Linked DNA regions of Homo sapiens. The protein of the gene in region 1 interacts with the protein of each later gene in a pairwise test. Each region holds a gene or a part of one and is shown in the gene's direction. Other genes may lie near its edges.

Region 1 (7,027 bases):
GAGATTTAGTATGCAGATTATGTTTTCCCCTCTAGATCTCTGTCGAAAAAATGCAAAGCTTTTAGAGAAGTTGCATGTACAATGAAAACCAATATTATTTTTCTCATTGACAATAATTTGTTCTGCCAGATCTAGGAAAAGCAGTTTAAAAAAACCAATAGTTTGGGGTTCATTTTTATAAAATTATTTCTTATTAAATATTGAGTAGGTATAAAAGAATATTTATAAAATATTTATTACCCGTAGCAAATAATGGTGCTACAAGCAGTTGTGTACCTGCCAAGTTGGTTTAAGATATTTTTGTCCGGGTGCGGTGACTTATGCCTATAATCCCATAGTGACAATGCCCAGGCAATTGAAGCTGCAATGAGCCATGATCACACCACTGCAACTCCAGATTGGGAGACCAAACAAGACTCCTTATTTACCAGAGATTGACTAAAGGAAAAAAGAAGTTGAAGGCCAGGCATGGTGGCTCACGCCTGTAATCCCAGAACTTTGGGAGGCCGAGGCTGGCAGATCATTTGAAGTCAGGAGTTCGAGACCAGCCTGGCCAACATGGTGAAACCCCCGTCTCTACTAAAAATATAAAAATTGGCATGGTGGAGCACACCTGTAGTCTCAGGTACCTAGGGGGTGAGGTGGGAGACTTGCTTGAGCCTGGGAGACTTGCTTGAGCCTGGGATGCGGAATTTGCATTGAGCCAATGTTGTCCCACTGCATTCCAGCCTGGGCGACAGAGTGAGACTCTGTCTCAAAAAAATAAAAAGAAAAAAGAAAAAATAAATAAAATAGAATGAACCAGATGATATGGCTGTCTTAGAGCAAGCAAGAGAGTGGGACAAGGTGAGGCGAGATTAGAGAGGTAGACTGCTCTGGAATAAAGAGGAACATCAAGGCCTTGATAAGAAATGAAGGTTTTATTTTTATTTATTTATTTTTTTGAGATGGAGTCTCGCTCTATCGCCCAGACCGGAGTGCAGTGGCGCGATCTCGGCTCACTGCAAGCTCTGTCTCCCAGGTTCATGCCATTCTTCTGCCTCAGCCTCCCAAGTAGCTGGGTCAGCAGGTGCCCACCACCACGCCCGGCTAATTTTTTGTATTTTTAGTACACATGGGGTTTCACTGTGTTAACCAGGATGGTCTCAATCTCCTGACCTCGTGATCGCCCTCCTCGGCCTCCCAAAGTGTTGGGATTATAGGTGTGAGCCACCGCACCTGGCCGGAGTTTTTATTTTAAATAAGATCGGAAGCTATGAAGGCTTTCATTAGAGCTTTGAGGCACACATGAGTTTACAAAATAGAAGTTAGACACCTATATATCTATAAAGTAATACCTAATTCATTATTTATATAATCCAGTGGACCAGAAGAACAAACATTAAAAAAATCTGTAAACCAATATCCCTTTTTCTATTTTGAAATAATCTCTTAGTATAAAGTATTTACTAACTTTATGCTAGTTTATTTACAAAATGCCTTTGAGAAGAGACTGAAAGTATTCAGTGGATCCACTACTGATTGTCTTTTTTAAAGAAATTCTTTTTAATCTTTCGGCAGACATGTGCATTGCCATTGCGATTTCTCTTCTCATGATCCTGATATGTGCTATGGCTACTTACGGAGCGTACAAGGTAAGCCGCTTGCAGTAAGATGCTGGCCTTTTCCTTGGTCTCTTACATGTGTAATCTGTGCTGCTGTCTATAGTGAGAAGTGACTTTCCAGTTTTCTGTTAAGAATCTCTGTTTAAATCTCTCGTTTGTATTATGTGGTACTAGGAAAACCAATATTATACTGGAAATTTTTTTTTTTTTGGGAAGACGGGGTCTCACTCTGTCACACAGGCTGGAGTAGAGTGGTGTGATCTTAGCTCACTGCAATCTCCGCCTCCCAAGTTCAAGTGATTCTCCCACCTCAGCCTCCAGAGTAGCTGGGACTACAGGTGTGTGCCACCACACCTTGCTGATTTTTGTATTTTTTAGTAGAGACGTGATTTCACCATGTTGGGCAGGCTAGTCTCGAACTCCTGACCTTAAGTGATCCACCCACCTCAGCCTCCCAAAATGCTGGGATTACAGGTGTGAGACACCACACACAGCCAGTCCTGGAAATGTTCACTGAAGCTTATTTGTTGACTGCTTATATTTGGCATACTGGTTTCCACCATGACCTGGGTTAATGAATTCCAATTTTTCCATTTCCTTTCAGATTAATAAAATACTTTGAATTTAAGAAAAATATTGTTTTATAATATTGAACACATTAACTTTCTATTTTCTGTTCTGTTTAGCAACGCGCAGCCTGGATCATCCCATTCTTCTGTTACCAGATCTTTGACTTTGCCCTGAACATGTTGGTTGCAATCACTGTGCTTATTTATCCAAACTCCATTCAGGAATACATACGGCAACTGGTACGTGGACCTCTTACTGCTCCTTTTCATTAATTCTTTTCATTAGGGAAGCTGGTTAAGTAAGGGATGTGTAGAGATACACAGACATTAATTTCAGGATTTTTAGCTTGCAGCTGAGTTACTCATAGGAAATTTCTTTTTTCTTTTTTTTGAGGTGGAGTCTTGCTCTCGTCACCCAGGCTGGAGTGCAGTGATGCGATCTCGGCTCACTGCAACCTCTGCCTCCAGGGTCTCAGCCTCCCAGCTAGCTGGGATTATAGGCATGTACCAACATACCTGGCTAATTTTGTATTTTTAGTAGAGATGGGGTTTCACTGTGTTGGTCAGGCTGGTCTTGAACTCCTGACCTCAGGTGATCCACCCATCTTGGCCTCCCAAAGTGCTGGGATTATGGGTGTGAGCCACTGTGCCTGGCCTGATAAAGTTTTGAGGGCCGGGGTTATGATTGGTGGCAGTGATGGTGGTGGTTGATGTGCCTACCTAAATTATAGTCCAGTTACTAATAGTCGTATTTGGTAAAATGTAGTTTTCTCAGTTATCAACAAAGGATAGCTTTTTGCCTTTGCTAGTGTGTTGAAAGTGGGACTCTGCTCAAAAACAAACAAAATAATTAGCTGGGAGAGGTGGCACACGCCTGTGACCCTAGCCACTCGGGAGGCTGAGGCAGGAGAATTGCTTGAACCTGGGAGGTGGAGGCTGCAGTGAGCCAAGATCACGCCACTGCACTCCAGCCTGGGCAATAGAGTGAGATCTCATCTAAAAAAAAAGAAAAATCAAAAGAAAGTGGAAAGAAAGTGGAACACTGCTGTATACTAGCTCCCAAATTTGTTTGACCATAGAATCCCTTTCTCAAGCATCATTTTGGGACTAGTTTACGGTTAAATGTCCTTTGTGACCATATGAGTGAATATTGGTGGCAGGGTATTAAGAAGCTTATAATGGCTATGAGGTTGGAATAACTTTATTTATTTTTGGGACAGGGTCTCTGTCACCCAGGCTGGAGTGCAGTGGTGTGATTATGGCTTGCTGCAGCGTTGACCTCCCAGGCTCCCGTGATCCTCCCATCTCAACCTCTTGAGTAGCTGGCACTATAGGCATGCACCACCATGCCCACCTAATTTTTCTTTTTGTATCTTATGTAGAGATGGGGTTTCACCATGTTGCCCAGGCTTGTCTCAAACTCCTAGACTCAAGTGATCCTCCAGCCTTGGCCTCCCAAAGTGCTGGCATTATAGATGTGACTCACTGTACCAGGCCAACTTTACTTTTTTTTTTTTTTTTTTTTGAGACAGAGTCTCACTCTATCACCTAGGCTGGAGTGCAGTGTTGTGATCTCGGCTCACTGCAACCTCCGCCTCCCTGGGTTCAAGCCATTCTCCTGCCTCAGTCTCCTGAGTAGCTGGGATTACAGGCACCCGCTACCAAGCCTGGCTAATTTTTTGTATTTTTAGTAGAGATGGGGTTTCACCATCTTTTCCAGGCTGGTCTCAAACATTTAGCCTCAGAGGATCCACCCTCATCGGCCTCCCAGAGTGCTAGGAATACAGGCGCCCACTACCATGCCTGGCTAATTTTTGTATTTTTTTTTTAGTAGAGGTGGGGTTTTGCCATGTTGACCAGGCTGGTCTCGAACTCCTGACCTCAGGTGATCCGCCCACCTTGGCCTCCCAAAGTGCTGAGATTACAGGCGTGAGCCACCATGCCCAGCCTGCAACCTCAATCTTCTGGGCTCAAGTGATCCTTCCACCTTAGCCTCCCAAGTAGTTTGGACTACAGACATGCACCACCATGCCCGGCTAAATTTGTATTTTTAGTAGAGATGGGGTTTGACTATGTTGTCCAGGCTGGTCTCAAACACCTGCACTCAAGCAATCTGCCTGCCTCAGCCTCCCAAAGTGCTGAAATTACAGGCATGAGCCACTGTGCTTGGCCAAGTTATTTTATTAATAAAAGAGTAAAGTTGCATGATCTGATCACAAAGAATGACGATTTTATTTCTTAGATATTTTGTCCCAAGTGAAAGGAGACTGAAAACCATTAGGTGGTGTTCACCCTGGTGAGCAGGAGCCAAGCCCATGAGTCATGGGCCTTCTCCATGTTCTTCCTCAACATTGGAAACAACTTTGTTTTGGAATATTGCTCGTGAGGAATCCAAACACATAGTGTTGAATGGTGAAGGGAGATAAAAGATGAGATAGCACAGTAGGCTGCCTTCCCATTCACTTGCCTAGGCCAGTGATGTAGGCGTTGATCAATGCTGTGTGAGTGTTCTGTGGGGAAAGTCCGGCAACTCCCTCTAACCATAGTAGCAGACTTTGATCCTCCTGAAAAGGTTCCCTTTGACCTGGTTGTTAAGCATTGTGGATGGTAGTGCTTGATTATTTCCCCCCACCCTGGAAGTACTTGCTAGTATAAGAGAATATGCTGTCTTGGGAGAAGTACCATCAACAAAAATGCTCTTTGCAAAGAAGACCTCATTTTAGTAGGTTTCTGTCCCTTGCCCTGCATATGCCCTTTAGAATGGTTCAGAACTTTTGAGACATGGTCTGGCTCTGTCGCCCGGGCGGCTGGAGTGCAGTGGCATGATCTCGCTCACTGCAACCTCCACCACCAGGGCTCAAGTGATTTGCTCACCCCAGCCTCCCAAGTAGCTGAGCTGGGCGACAGAGAGAAACTCCATCTCAAAAAAGAAAAAAAAAAAAAAAAGGAATGGTTCAGAACTTGCAGAGAATACAAATTTCAGAGATCCCTGGATATACAAAATGTCCCTGGATACCGATCACTGACGTCTTTTATATGGTAAGAGGGCAGAGTCAGGCTAGAAATTTTGTATTGGTTCTAAATAATAGCTGTCTGCTTTAATCAGTTGCTTTCTGATAAGCATGTCTGAATTGGTGCCCAAGGAATACTGTCTGGAATGATTAATGAGATTTGCTAATGAGGCCCTTTTCTTTTGCAGCCTCCTAATTTTCCCTACAGAGATGATGTCATGTCAGTGAATCCTACCTGTTTGGTCCTTATTATTCTTCTGTTTATTAGCATTATCTTGACTTTTAAGGTAAGCATGAAGATTTTACTTATAGTCTAAAAATATTAAGTGTATTCCTGAATACCAAATAAGTAAACAAACTTTGGTCAGTTTATTGTCTTTCTTTGGACATCCAAATTGCTTTTTGATTTCCTAAGATTACAATTCTTTATGCTGTCTATGTTGGAGGTAAACACTAATCAAAATTCCACAGTTTGATCAAGGAGTCCAAAATATATTTGGACAGAGATAAGTTAACATAATGTTATACATTACATAGTATATGATATTGCAACGTCTGTTACAAGGTCTGTGTAATGGATATTCTTTTGTAATTTTTTGCTAAAAGTGTAATATTTTCTGAATATTGTTCTATCTCAATCCATTATATGAATATCATTATTTAATAAATTACTTGATGAGCATTGAGACATTTTTTACTTTTTCACTTAATAGGGCTGTAGTGAATATATTTAAGTACATCCTTATATTTATGCATTTATCTCAAGATAAATTTCCTTTTTTTTTTTTTTTTTTTTTTTTTGAGATGGAGTCTCGCTCTGTCGCCCAGGTTGGAGTGCAGTGGCGCAACCTCGGCTTACTGCGAGCTTCGCCTCCCGGCTTCACGCCATTATCTTGCCTCAGCCTCCCCAGTAGGTGGGACCACAGATACCCGCCACCATGCCCAGCAAATTTTTTTGTATTTTTAGTAGAGATGGGGTTTCACTGTGTTAGCCAGGATGGTCTCGATCTCCTGACCTCATGATCCGCCCACCTCGGCCTCCCAAAGCTGGGATTACAGGCATGAGCCACTGTGCCCGGCTTCAAGATAAATTTCTTAAAATCAGGGTGTTCATGGTTGGAAAGCCTTTGATAGGTTGTCAAATTGATGTCCCCCAAAGTTAAATGACTTCTACTTCCTGCAGCAGTGCCTCACCCTTATCAATCAATTGCTGCAAATTCTTTTTCATCTTGGTCAATCTGTTTATAAAACCATCATTATAACTTGTGCTTATGAGCTACTAATGGGTAGAAAACTCTCATGGCTCTTTATGCTTTCAACTTTTTTCTTTTTTTATTTATTTTTCTTTCTTTCTTTTTTTTTTTTTTTTGAGGTAGGGTCTCTCCCTGTAGTCTAGGCTGCCTCCTGCCTTGGTTTCCCAAAGTTTTGGGATTACAGGTGTGAACCACTGCACCCAGCATACTTTGAATTTTTGAATCTCAATGCCTTTCATTGTCTTAATTTTGGCATAAAATTATGTCATTCTTCAAAAATCATGCCTCAGTAAACTTGGGAAAGCTGCATTGAGGCAGAAAATTCATATAGGTACTGTGATGAAAAGGAGTAGAAAGAAAGTGGTTCATTGGAAACCAGTTGGCCAGGTGAAATGGCTCACACCTGTGATCCCAACACTTTGGGAGGCTGAAGTGAGAAGATTGTTTGAGCTGGGAGTGTGAGGCTGTAGTGTGCTATGATAGCAGCACTGTACTTCAGCCTGGGTGACAGAGTGAGACCCCGTCTTGTTGTTGTTGTTGTTGAGACAGAGTCTCACTCTGTCACCTAGGCTGGAGTGCAGAGGTGCGAT
Region 2 (7,027 bases), on another chromosome or scaffold:
GTAGGTGGACCCCTAGCATGGGGAGAGCTGGCATGGCATGGCTGAGGGCCACTGAGAGGCCTGGGCAGGCACAAGGAACATGAGCTGCATGTTAGTAGTTAGGATGAAGTGCATGACAGCAATGACTAAGAATTCTATGTATATATATATATTTTTAGATGGAGTCTCGCTCAGTCGCCAGGCTGGAGTGCAGTGGCGTGATCGCAGCTCACTGCAACCTCCACCTCCCGGGTTCAAGCGATTTTCCTGCCTCAGCCTACCGAGTAGCTAGCTGGGACTAAAGGCGCGCGCCACCATGCCCAGCTAATTTTTTATTTTTAGTAGAGATGGGGGCGGGGGTTCACCATATTGGCCAGGATGGTCTCGATCTCTTGACCTTATGATCTGCCCGCCTCGGCCTCCCAAAGTGCTAGGATTACAGGTGTGAGCCACCTCACCCAGCCTTTTTTTTTTTTTTTTTTTGAGATGAAGTTTCGCTCTCATTGCTCAGGGTGGAGTGCAATGGCACAATCTTGGCTCATTGCAACCTCTGCCTCCCTGGTTCAAGCAATTCTCCTGCCTCAGCCTCCTGAGTAGCTGGGATTGATTACAGGCGCCCACCACCACTCCTGGCTAATTTTGTATTTTTAGTAGAGACCGGGGTTTCACCATGTTGATCAGTCTGGTCTCGAACTCCTGACCTCAGGTGATCCACCTGCCTCAGCCTCCCAAAGTGCAGGATTACAGGCATAAGCCATCGCGCCCAGCGAAGAATTCTAATACTTGACTTCTACAGTGTGCTACATTCATTTTCTCACTTGATCTGACAACCTGTGGTCAAGGAAGCAGCGTGGGCCTTGAAGCTAAACACACAGGATTTGGAACTCCCCACCCACTCTCACTGGGTCCTCATGCTAATTACTTATCTCTCTCAGCCTTAGTTTCCTCACGGAATAATATGCCTCCCAGGGTTAAGAGGAGTAAATGGGATCTTGTGTGTAAGGCTCTGGTGCTCGTAGCTGGTGTTCGTTATTCTTACTGTTCAAGTATTCTTACTGCCACGCCTTTCTTGCAGGTGAGTCCTGCAAATGTTAAGTGATTTGCTCAAGGTGCCCATTTCGCAGGAATTGGAGCCCAGGCCAGTTCTCTGAGCCTATCATTAGGGCTAAAGGTGAGCAGTCAAATGTTTTACCTCCGTGGGGGCTATTGGCTATTAGCTGCTTCCGAGTGAGGGACCTCAATGCAGGAAGCCACACTGTTGCCTTCTTGGTGTGAGTCCGTGGGACAGGGTGACTGCCTTGATGCCTGGGCCCGTGCTGCCTACATATTAGCTGAAAGCAGGGCCAGTCCTGTGGCTTTGCCCACTCACCTAGCGTTTAAGAGCAACTGCTCAGGGCTTTAAGCATTTGCCATGCCTGAAACCAGAGTTGGTTTCTGGGTTTATCAAGGACTTGTGGAAATCTCAAAATAAATCTCTTGCTTTCTGGACCATGAGTTGTTGCTTCCTCTTTTTTTCTCTGGACTTTCCCCAGAGGAAGAGAAAGCAGAAGTCTCAGGGCTGGAGACAGCTGAGGGGCATCAGCTGGTTCAAGGTGTGGAGTGTGGGCAGTGGAGTGAAGGCCTGGTTACCTCTCCAGTGAAGATTAGCCCCATAGAGCTTACTCTATGGGGAAGAACTTTTCTGACTCCTTCCTGTCTAGGGTAATAGTGGGGTGTTTGCTCTTTTCAGACTGTAATTTTTGCCTTCTTATCTTAGAACCCAAGGCCTGGGTGTTTGCGTAATTTAGCCTGGATTTTGATTCCTGTCCCTTTTTTCCTGGGGGGTATGGGGTGGTAATTCTTTACCTTCTGGTCCTGTGAGGGGAGAGGAATCCCAGGACTCTGGGTCTTGGGCCTTGGCATCTGGCCTTCGCCAGGGCCAGCCATAGCCTTGAGTTTGCTGCTCTGTCTGGGCACTGCCAGGTGCTGGGGTGGGGCCTCAGTCATTGTGACTGAAGATCAGGCCCACCCAGGCATTGAGGCCTCGGGCGGGGGGTGGTGCCCAGGCTGATGCAGGGGAACTGAAGCAAAAAGATTCCATCCCACAGGCCAAGAGCTAAATCAGTGTTACCTCCTTTAGCCAGAGAACTGGGTGCATCTGAGCCAGTGGAGATTTGTGACTTCTCCTTCTTCTAGGAGTGCGTGATCAGAATGGTGTCTGGACGGTTCTACTTGTCCTGCCTGCTGCTGGGGTCCCTGGGCTCTATGTGCATCCTCTTCACTATCTACTGGATGCAGTACTGGCGTGGTGGCTTTGCCTGGAATGGCAGCATCTACATGTTCAACTGGCACCCAGTGCTTATGGTTGCTGGCATGGTGGTATTCTATGGAGGTGGTGAGTAAGAGGTCAGGAAGGGAGGCGGGATAGGGCTCAGGCTGGACAAAGCTGCACTTTCCCTCTCCAAGGCTGGCCTTTGTAAATGTTGGGCTTGGGGCTATGGGGGTAGGGTGGGTTGGGCTGTCTCTGGGCCTAGCTGTCATTTGGGGGAGGAAGGGGTTAAGATGGGGGGCATCTCAGAAGGGTGGCTTCACAAATACTCTAGGGCAGGAGTTGGCAAACTTTCTATAGAGGGTCAGATAAATATTTCAGTTTTGCAAGACAGAATCTGTGTTGCAGTTACTCAGCTCTGCCACTGTATTGTGAGAGCAGCCATAGACAACACATACACACAAGTGTGGATCACGTGTTCCAATAAAGCTTTATTTGCAAACATAGGTAGCGAGCTGGATTTGGCCTTTGAGCTGTAGTGTTTTTTTTTTTTTTTTTTTTCTCTAGACGGAGTCTTGCTGTGTCGCCCAGGCTGGAGTGCAGTGGCGTGATATCGGCTCACTGCAAGCTCCACCTCCCAGGTTTGCGCCATTCTCCTGCCTCAGCCTCCCGAGTAGCTGGGACTACAGGCGCCTGCCACCGTGACCGGCTAATTTTTTTTTGTATTTTTAGTAGAGACAGCGTTTCACCGTGTTAGCCAGGATGGTCTTGATCTCCTGACCTTGTGATCTGCCCACCTCAGCCTCCTGAAGTGCTGGGATTACAGGCTTGAGCCATCATGCCCGACCTGAGCTGTAGTTTTTAACCAGCTCTAGAGAACAGGAGATTGAAGCCTCTCATGGTTTAGTCAGGCCACCGAATGAGGGACTTGCTTGCTCTTCCGGGATCCATCTTTTTTTTTTTTTTCTTTTTTTGAGATGGAGTTTTGCTCTTGTTGCCCAGGCTGGAGTGCAATGGCGTGATCTTGGCTCACTGCAACCTCCGCCTCCTGGGTTCAGGCCATTCTCCTGCCTCAGCCTCCCAAGTACCTGAGATTATAGGTGCCCGCCATCATGCCCAGCTAATTTTTATATTTTTTAGTAGAGATGGGGTTTCACCATGTTGGTCAGGCTGGCCTCGAACTCCTGACCTCAGGTGATCCACCCGCCTCTGCCTCCCAAAGTGCTGGGATTACAGGTGTGAGCCACTGCGCCCAACCTGGGATCCATCTTTGTAATCTTTGTCCCATGCTTTCAAATCTGTGCCTTGGGGCCCTGGTGAGCCTCATTTTCCCCATTTGTAAAATGGCAATACGATGCCATTGATGATAGCAGCTTACCATGTGCAGTTCACATATATCATCCCATTTTGTTCTTACAAGTTTGTGAGGTGGGCTCTGTTATATCCCTTTTACAGATGAGGAAATTGAGAGTTAGACAGGAGAGGCCAGGCCAGGCGTGGTGGCTCACGCCTGTAATCCCAGCACTTTGGGAGACTGAGGTGGGCGGATCATGAGGTCAGGGGATCGAGACCATCCTCGCTAACACAGTGAAACCCCGTCTCTACTAAAAATACAAAAAATTAGCCGGGTATGGTGGCAGGCACCTGTAGTCCCAGCTACTTGGGAGGCTGAGGCAGGAGAATGGCGTGAACCCGGGAGGCGGAGCTTGCAGTGAGCTGAGATTGCGCCGCTGCACTCCAGCCTGGATGATAGAACGAGACTCTGTCTCAAAAAAAAAAAAAAAAAAAAAGAAAGGAGAGGCCAAACAGCTAAGAGGCAGAGCCTGGATTTGGACCTATGTTGCCTGACCTTAGTACCTGTGTTGACAGCCAGCCTCACTTGTGACAATTCAGTTTGATGAAACAATGACTGTCATGATGCTTTTTAGCCTAGAAACTGCAAACAAGCTGAATTTATTATTGTGAAAATAGAATGAGAGGTCCAAGAAACCTGCTTCCCCCCTCCACTTTTTTTTTAGGAGACAGGTTTCCCTCTTTTTCAGGCTAGAGTGCAGTGGGATGATCATAGCTTGCTGCAGCCTTGAACTCTTAGGCTCAAGTGATCCTCCCACCTCAGTCCCCCAAGTAGCTGAGAGAACAGGCATGTGCCACCATGCCCGGATAATATTTTTTATTTTTATTTTTTGTGGACACAGGATCTTGCTATGTTGCCCAGGCTGATCTTGAACTTCTGGCCTCCCAAAGTGCTGACATGAGTCACCGTGCCCAGCCCTCCTCCCTTTTTAATTGGAATCTGTTTATTTATTTATTTCTCTCTGTGGCCCAGGCTAGATTGCAGTGGCATGATCATAGCTCACTGTAACCTCAAACTCCTGGCCTCAAGCAGTCCTCCCACCTTGGCCTCCCAAAAAGTGCTGGAATTACAGGCATGAGCCACCTTGCCTGACCACTCCTCCCTTTTTAACTGGCCCTTCTCTCCTCCCTTCATGGCTGTTATCCCACAAATCATGGGAGGGTAGAAGATGCCGAGGAGTTGATACCAGTGCCCTAGCATTTCCTGTTCCCTTGCTGGGAAGCTGTGTAGGATCCTATCAGGGTTATTCCCTGATGTCTGGGTGAGCTCGAGGGGAGAGGCTGAGCCCTGGCACTACTCTCTCCTGCAGCGTCACTGGTGTACCGCCTGCCCCAGTCGTGGGTGGGGCCCAAACTGCCCTGGAAACTCCTCCATGCAGCGCTGCACCTGATGGCCTTCGTCCTCACTGTTGTGGGGCTGGTTGCTGTCTTTACGTTTCACAACCATGGAAGGACTGCCAACCTCTACTCCCTTCACAGCTGGCTGGGCATCACCACTGTCTTCCTCTTCGCCTGCCAGGTGGGTTCTCTCTGTTCTCCTCCTCGAGGTTCCCAGAGCCATGAGCTCTGGTTGGGGGTTCACTTGCATGAGCACCAAATATTCCTCTGCTCACTGCTTGGAGAGGGACTTGCAGATTGTTATCTTGTAGAACTGACAGTTTATTCAAGGGCTGTGGGAGGTCAGTGGCCTGAACTTACCCTGTTCCTTTTATCCCTCCCATTGCCCGTCTCTCGTCCCAGAGCCCTCTCTGCTAACTTTGTCATGGCACGCACTATGCTGACTCTAATCAGCCATCTGGCTTCCACTTTCCCCACTCCCACCTCTGTGAACCAAAAGAATTCTTGAAGTGGTTTCCATATTCTGATCTCAGGCCTGTGCGAGTGAAGAGTTTTATGAGCAAGGACTGGAAGGAACCAGAGACAAACAAGGTGGTTGGGTTTGCTGGGAGTGGGATGGTAGCTAAGCATGTCATTTACTGTTCTTGTTGCTTGGGTAATAGGCCACAATGAGGAAGCTAGCACGGTAGTGGGCAATGCCAGGTGGGAAGGTTTGAGTTGTGAAAGAAGAGCCAGGGAGCAGAGATGGGGAGGAGGCACTGATGGGGTGGGATGTGCTTTGGTCACACATAGCACAGTCGGGTGTGTCCTCCCTTTTGTCCACAGTGGTTCCTGGGCTTTGCTGTCTTCCTCCTGCCCTGGGCGTCCATGTGGCTGCGCAGCCTCCTAAAACCTATCCACGTCTTTTTTGGAGCCGCCATCCTCTCTCTGTCCATCGCATCCGTCATTTCGGGCATTAATGAGAAGCTTTTCTTCAGTTTGTGAGTGCAGTGGGGTCCCCAACTCTAAGGTGAAGAGGAGGGAATAGGGTCTTCAAAAGATACACCCTGTGATCACAGGACTCACCCAAGGGAGGAGAGATTTTGGGGTTGGGTCCACTCCTGATCTGGAAGGTAACAGAATTGATCTTTCTTTAGGTTGAAATTGGTAAGTCAGCAGATATTTATTGAGCATCAGTTTGATTTAGCACCTGCTGTGTGTCAGAAACAGTACTAAGCACCTTACATTTAATCCTGTCAACCACCCTACATCATTGGTATTGATTGGTATTGTTGTCATTGCCATTTTCTTTTTTCTTTTTTTTTGAGATGGAGTCTCACTCTGTCGCCCAGGCTGGAGTGTAGTGGCACAATCTTGGCTCGCTGCAACCTCCACCTGCTGGGTTCAAGCAATTCTCCTGCCTCTGCCTCCCAAGTAGCTGGGCCTACAAGTGTGTGCCACCATGCCCGGCTAATTTTTTGAATTTTTAGTAGGGACGGGGTTTCACCATGCTGGGCAGGCTGGTCTCGGACTCCTGACCTCATGATCTGCCCGCCTCGGCCTCCCAGAGTGCTGGGATTACAGGCATGAGCCACTGCACCCGGCCGTCATTGCCATTTTCAATTGAGGGAACAGATTCTGCAATAGGACTGTTCAGGTAGAAATAAAAATAAAAAAAATGAGGGAACAGAGGGGTTACGTAACTTACCCGAGGGCACACAGCCAGTAAGTGGCAGAGCTGGGACTCAGATTAGGCAGTCTGACTCTAGAGCCTTGCATGCCTGACCACTACTGTCCGTTCTTTTGAGGCAATGGGGTGTAGTGAAAAGCAACTAGGACTTAAGGTCAGACCTTGGTTTCGATCTTGGCTGTGCCATTTACTAGTTATGCAACTTTGGGCAAGTTAATTTCATTGCTTTGAGCTTCAGTTTCCTCATGGGTAAAAGGATTATTACAGCTGGGTGCCGTGGCATGCACCTGTAGTCCCAGCTACTAGGGAGGCTGAGGTGGAAGGAGTCCAGCCTGGGCAACATAGGAAGACCCTCTCTCTCTCCTTTTATCCCCCCAGCCAAGAGATAGCATCTCACTCTGTTGCCTAGGTTGGAGAGCAATGGTGTGACCATAGCTCAC

What was found.
Region 2: the proteins of LAPTM4B (region 1) and CYB561A3 interact in binary tests that used the Homo sapiens proteins (3 or more experiments, as listed by UniProt).

Annotation. Positions count from the first base shown.
Region 1 is NC_000008.11:97,813,768-97,820,794, forward strand, and holds part of LAPTM4B (lysosomal-associated transmembrane protein 4B), read left to right. Parts: intron 1-1,560; coding exon 1,561-1,634; intron 1,635-2,290; coding exon 2,291-2,413; intron 2,414-5,372; coding exon 5,373-5,471; intron 5,472-7,027. UniProt on the Homo sapiens protein: Required for optimal lysosomal function. Blocks EGF-stimulated EGFR intraluminal sorting and degradation.
Region 2 is NC_000011.10:61,351,856-61,358,882, reverse strand, and holds part of CYB561A3 (lysosomal membrane ascorbate-dependent ferrireductase CYB561A3), read left to right. Parts: intron 1-1,054; 5' UTR 1,055-1,150; intron 1,151-1,511; exon of another isoform or gene 1,512-1,644; coding exon of another isoform or gene 1,645-1,680; exon of another isoform or gene 1,681-2,154; coding exon of another isoform or gene 2,155-2,169; coding exon 2,170-2,353; intron 2,354-4,890; coding exon 4,891-5,099; intron 5,100-5,320; exon of another isoform or gene 5,321-5,451; coding exon of another isoform or gene 5,452-5,509; exon of another isoform or gene 5,510-5,700; coding exon of another isoform or gene 5,701-5,743; coding exon 5,744-5,898; coding exon of another isoform or gene 5,899-6,023; intron 6,024-7,027. UniProt on the Homo sapiens protein: Transmembrane reductase that uses ascorbate as an electron donor in the cytoplasm and transfers electrons across membranes to reduce iron cations Fe(3+) into Fe(2+) in the lumen of the late endosome and lysosome.